Linked DNA regions of Homo sapiens. The protein of the gene in region 2 purifies or fractionates together with the protein of the main gene of each other region. This does not show direct contact. Each region holds a gene or a part of one and is shown on either strand. Other genes may lie near its edges.

Evidence for each region. The genes of interacting proteins can lie anywhere in the genome.
Region 1: the proteins of SEPTIN3 (region 2) and BTBD9 purify together in Homo sapiens (affinity purification with mass spectrometry; 3 studies listed by BioGRID and IntAct, with this or other methods). This does not show direct contact.

What each region holds. Positions count from the first base shown.
Region 1 is NC_000006.12:38,171,441-38,174,929, forward strand, and holds part of BTBD9 (BTB/POZ domain-containing protein 9), read right to left. Parts: 3' UTR 1-3,489.
Region 2 is NC_000022.11:41,996,082-41,998,721, reverse strand, and holds the end of SEPTIN3 (neuronal-specific septin-3), read right to left. Parts: exon of another isoform or gene 1,821-2,640; coding exon 1,755-1,820; 3' UTR 501-1,754; downstream 1-500. UniProt on the Homo sapiens protein: Filament-forming cytoskeletal GTPase. May play a role in cytokinesis.

The sequences.
Region 1 (3,489 bases), on a different chromosome or scaffold from region 2:
AAAAGTGACAATTTAAAGAGCAATTGAGAAGAGTCCCACATCCATCATGGCTTGTGCTTCTAACTAAAATCAAAGGAATGAAAGCAGAAAAAGCACTGAGAAAATGGTAAAACGGGTGTGTGTGTGTGTGTGTGTGTGTGTGTGTGTGTGTGTGTGTGTGTGTGAGAGGGAGAGACGGTGGGGGCGGGGGGTGGTTCATAGCTGCTTCAAGTCCAAAGTGCTCACAACGGCTCCTGTGAGACTGCCCTGCTGGGTGCTGGCTGCATGGACACAGCTGCTGCCCAGCACACACCCTACCTGCCCTACACTCTCAGTCCACCCCAAATGACCCTCCCCAGAGCTGCCAGAAGGTGACTTTGAAGGCTTTTTTCCCCAAAAGCTCCAATGAAGTTGCCTTTCTACTCTCAAAAAAAAAAAAAAAAAAAAAAAAAAAAAAAAAAAATAATAATAATAATAATAATAATAATAATGAAAAGTGAAGGGTGGGGGTGCTGGCCACCTCCCATTTCTTTGCCTGGGTGGTGGTGACCATGGCGCCCTTGTGTCCTTTCCATTGGTTACTGAGGACCATTGCCCTCATGGGCCCAGGCCACAGGCACCCACCTGTCAGCCTCACCTGCCACCTCTCTCCATGTTGGCTTGTTGCCCCTGGGGCTGGCCTGGGCATGGGGGAGCTTATCTCCCCGACCAGGGGCTTGGCCATGTCTCCTTCACAACCCCCGCTCCCCACGGACTGAGCCTCCACTCTCTGCTGGGCTGAGGGCTCTGTGGTGCCCAGGAGCCCTCCCAGCCACGTGCCAGCCCATCCCATCATCAGCACTTGCTTTTAGCTTCAAGTGTTTAGGTCGCTTTGGTCCTGGTGGCCCAGGGGAGAAGTGCTCTGTAGGACCAGCCAGGCTCTGGGGAACTCCAGGCTGCCCGGGGACTTTCTGGTAGCCACTCACTTGTCCCTGTTCCCTGGAGATGAGGTCCTTGCCCTGGTGTGTGGTGTGACACACCTTGACTTGGCCTCCAGGCCCAGCTGGACACACGAAAAGAGTTCCTGCCCCAGTCAGAAGGCCCCTCAGGGAAGGGCAGTACCCCTCCAGCCTGGGAAAGGAGGTGAACCCGTGTCCTTTTGGAGTCCAGGGCAGGCTCCCAGCAAAGCGAGGGGGAGGCGAGCTGGCAGCGCGGCTGTGAGGGAATGAGACTTTGCCATCAGTCCTCACCAATGACATCTACTGTTAGTGCCACCCCATCGTCCCCATACTTCTCTTTATCTGATGATAAGGGGCATCTTTAAAGTGCTAGAAGACAGGAGGGACAGAGATCTGGAAGGGCATGCCCCGAAGGAAAGAACCGCCACAGGCCAGGGAGCTGCAGATGTGGGTCTAGGGCCGAGGCTTTGCAGCGTATTCCTTTTCAGATGCGAGGCCGAGCTGCCAAGCTGCTATCTCGTTCCCGGAGCACAGGAGGGCTCTGCGTGCTCTGTGGGCAGGGGACTGGAGGGTTGCAGATGCAGGGCCGGGCAGCTCCTCCAGCACCCCCACCAGCCCACCCTCTCTTCCCAAGGTCAGCAGCATGCTGCTTCAGGCCAAGGGCCTCTGGGCAGGTGATGCCCATGTTTAAAAAGAAGCATGTGAATGGCTCATTTCAAAATGTTTGAACTCTGCCCTTGATATGACTGTCTGGCTCCTTTGTCCCCATCTGGGTAGAAAACACACTGGGGAAGGAAGTGCTGTGTGTGCAGGAGCTCTCTGGCTAATTGGCAACCCGGGGCTGGGGGCTGACAGAGTCAGCAACCATGCTGGAGGGCCCCCCACTGTGAGCGGGCGCCCACCGTTCCTTACAGGAGCCTCCTCCCATTATGAAATGCCTGGCATCCCAGGAGTGTTCCACTCTCCCACACAACAGGGAAGTGGCAGAGATCAGAGCTGAGGGGATAGGAAGCAGCTCAGCCCTGCAGCTGGAGCTACCGGGGAGGATGGAGAGCTGCAGACCCTGGCTTCTCCTCAGGAACGTGTCCACCCTGCCCCGGTAGCCCTCTGATGTCTGCCATCCTGTGTTCACACGGAAAGACAGTCTTCCAATTTAATCACGCAGTTTGATGCTACCCTACTATTTCCATATGGACAAATCACTCAAAATCAAGTTAAACTAGGAGGAAGCGGCTGACCCGTTGGCTCTTTCTAGAGCGCAGCTGATATGTCTTTGACACACCTGAAAGGAAACTCCCACGCCCTCACCCTCCTTTGATCAGGGTTGCAGGTTGGCGCCGAAGACCCAAGGACTGCAGTGCTGCTCACGTGCCATGCCGTCCTGGGGAGACTCCCAGGCTGATGCTGATGGCGACAGAGGCCGGAGCTCTGGGGACAGCGGAGGGGCAGGCAATGTTGTGCGCAGTTACCCAGGGCAGGCAGCACTGGAATGGAAATCACTAAGTAGGAGACGGAGCCACATCAAGCCACCATCGTCAAATGAGGTCCTTTTGATGAGGATTAGGAGAAAAGCTTCTTGGAACTGCTATTTTTCAGTCCCCAGTTGAGTACTGTGGTGTGGGGGAAGCACGGAGTCCCAGTTCTGCGTTCCTGACGCTGATGGGCAGGTGGCTGCCTCTCCAATGCTTCGATAAACACAACTGGAGGGGCAGCTAAGCCACGGCAGTCCCCGGCAGGTTTGGCCACGCCAGAACTCGGTATATGTTTATCTACATGGACTTCGGAACAGTGAATTAGCAGCGGGCATAGTAACTATTTCCTTGTCAGCCTCCCAAGCTTAAAGGCTGGATCCATGTCAGGAATGACAGGTGAGTAACTCAGCCACACGAGTGACTATTAACTCCAGTGTCCACAGGTTGATTTGCTTGTGTGCATTTGTGGCACTTCCTCTGTGGCCCAAGTGCCAGGATGAGCTGCATCCGTGTCTCATTTAGGAGACATGCACGATGGGTCTCTGTCCCCGCAAGCTGAACCGTTCAAAACCAAGGAAGGAAAATTATAGCATCAAAAGGGATTAAAACTAGTGATTTGCTGTTTGAGCATTTCAAATAGATCCGGAACACCTATGATTCACTGAGTGGAGAATAACTAAAACAAATAAAAAATCATTTAGTTGCCAGGGCAATGTATTCCAGCAGAATGAACACTCTATGGAGGCCCATTCCTAAAGGGTGCCTCCAGGTAGCAAAGGCCCAATGGCTTTCTCCTCCGCCTGAGTGTTTGCGTGCCATTTTTGTATTCCAACACAGGCCTGTCTATGACTTCCTCCTGTTCCCTGCGCCTGGGCTAGATTAGAGAGGTAGGGTGTTAATGGTGGACTTGATGAAGATTGAAGACCCATTTTCTCCCCCTTGAGACCTGCCTGATTTGGATAAATTGAGAAGAACAAAGCAGCCCCTTTCTGTCCTTGGGAGAAAACCTGTTCGGTGTCTGCTTTTGCAGCTAGGTCGGCTCCTCCCTGGAAAGGGGCAGAGGTGGGGGCAGTCAACAGAGACCCCTGCTCAGGGAGGAG
Region 2 (2,640 bases):
GTAAGGAGGAGGAGGAGGAGGAGCGAGACCGGGTCACGTGGTGGGGCAGTGCCCGGGGAGCGGGGCGGAGTCAGGGTAGAGGCCCCCGCCGAGAAAGGGGAGAAAGAGGCGGGCCCTGAGAATTGGCTCGAGCGCGAAGGGGTGAGTGATAGGTGAGTGGCCTCCCGACCTCACCTGCCCCCTTAGCCCCCTGCCTTTAGGTATGGACTTGGGTTGGTCCTGTCAGGAATGATCTCAGCTCACTGCACCTCCAACCTCCCATGCTCAAGCCATCTTCCCACCTCAACCTCCCATCCATTACTCACTTTGGTTATGAAACACTAGAAAATAATGACTGAGGCCCGACCTGACGCCAACTGAAGATGAACTGACCTCACAAAGTGTTTTCATCTCTAATATCTGTGGCTATTTCTTACCAAGAGAGTCTCACCCTCCACACATGGGTGAGATGACATAATGGCTGATTTGGTCAAGGAGCACAAATAAGACAGGCCAGGCAGTTACTGTTCAAACAGCAATGTTTAGTTGTACAACACATAAAGTCTAGCAACAATTACAGGACCAGTTTGAGTGTCTGTTTGCTTGTTTTCAATTGGGAAATTTAACTGTAATGTCACCGTAAGATTGGCTGGGACTGGTAACATTTAAGAAACGGGTTGTTCTTGCATCCCCTAGGCGTGGGCCTCTTGCTCCATCAGGACTTGGTTGTAGATGAATGGCCCACAAGTCACCAGCCTTTGAGCAAGTTGTGTCCAGGTGGAGACAGGAAGAGGGTGGGCAAAGGGGAATTCTATAAAGACACAGTGTGTGGGGCAGTGGCAGTCAACATTCGCAAACATTCATGCATCTGATGGGGGGCTTTGCCCTCCCTTGGGTATTTTCCATTAGCCTACAGTGACCACCTGTGGTCAGGCTAATTCATTACTCACATTAATGGGGAAGGGGGTTGGGGGTAGGAGTAGGTAGGGTAGGTGGGAAGAGATCCCTCTTATTGCTGAGTGGACAGAAGGGTGCTAGTTTTTCCTTAGCGTGTACATATTGTGGGTTTCTGGGGGTTTGTGTGTGTGTTTAGTTTTTGTTTGTTTGTTTGGACAGAAGAAAGTCAACTCCAGCAATGTCTTCTTAGGAAAACCACTCTTCCTCAGTGGCTGCGTTATGAGGTGGGGAGGATGTACAACCGCACTCTGGGACAGCCACAAGTGGTGATTTTTTAAAAAGTGATCCTAGCCCTTGCTCCCCAACATCTGTAGTGACCCACCCTCATGAATATCTTTAAGTAATGAAGGAGACACCCTTGTCCCACTTTGGGGCTCACACAGCTGATCTCAATGAATCTAGTAAGCAGAAAAATTGCTTTCTTGACCCTTTAAGGAAGCCAAGAGTAGCTCATGCAGATGAATGGGTAGGGAGCAATGCCATTGCCCTTAGAGATGGTTACAAGTAGCTGGGATGGGCTTACAAGGGCAGAAGGAGCTCTTGATGAGTTCTTTCACCCTGCAGATGGGCTAGGACCGGCTGACGCAGATGATGCAGTAGGGCTGTACTGGCAGAACCCCACTCCACTGGGAGGAGAGGAGTGGTTTGGATAAATGGAGGATGCAACTGGCCTAAAGAGGCAGCTGGCCCCTCCCACCTACTGAGGGCTGAGAGGGGCTGTGGTGGTGAGCTGGACGAGCACAGCACTAAAAAGGGCTTGGCCCTGCAGCAATAACAGCTGAGAGGAATGGAGTGAGAAGCAGCGCTTGAAATGGCCTTCATTCAGCAGTGGGGCAGGGGGTGGCTGGCACAGGTGGAAGGACAGTGCCCAGGAGGCCTTCTCCCTGCAGGGGGGTTGAGAACGGTTGAGGGTGTGGAGACCAGCAGCTGGCAGCAGACATATAAAATACCTTCTCCAGGGAGGCTCAGATCATGGTTCAGGGGTGCCAGGCACCATTCCTACTCAGCCTTTCCAACGCCCACCTCCCATGCCCATAGATCTTCCCCTGCTGGTCCAAGGTCTCCATACAGGACTGCTTCTACAGTAGCCAAGGATCCCTGTTCTGTTGAAATGTATAACCTCTGGGCTGTAGCGCTGCTGCTGTTCTGTCCTGACAGGTGCCTACCCTGTAACTTTGTGAGCAAGGGAGGATGAGGGCTGGGTTGGCAGCCTCCAGGAAAGACCGAGAGCATAGGTTGGGGTCACTGGTGACCTGATCACCGCCCCCCTTTCTCCTGGTCCATTGAATCTTGGGTCTTGAGTCTATGTTTTTTTTCCTAGCACCTGAGTGATAAAAGACTGGGATTATAAGTGCTGGGATTCATAGAGGACCAGTGAAACACCTAGGCTGAACCAGGAGATGGGACAGAAGGTTGTATGAGGTTATTGTAAACAGTTTCACTTAGTGTTTTCCCTTCCCTAAGGCTAAACTGTTTCCCTGGCCCCGAATTTCATGAATCTTACAGATTAAAGGAAAAGAGTAACTTACTTGTACAACAAGCAGGGGAAATATATGCATTAATAAATACAGGGCTTCAGGGAAAGGCAAGAAAAGCCTAAATGTATGACGGTGGGTATCATTGGGAATGTCTACAGGAGTCAGGAGGAGAGGGAATTAGGGAAAAGTAGAGAAAGACAGACATAAATATGATTAGCTTCAGCAC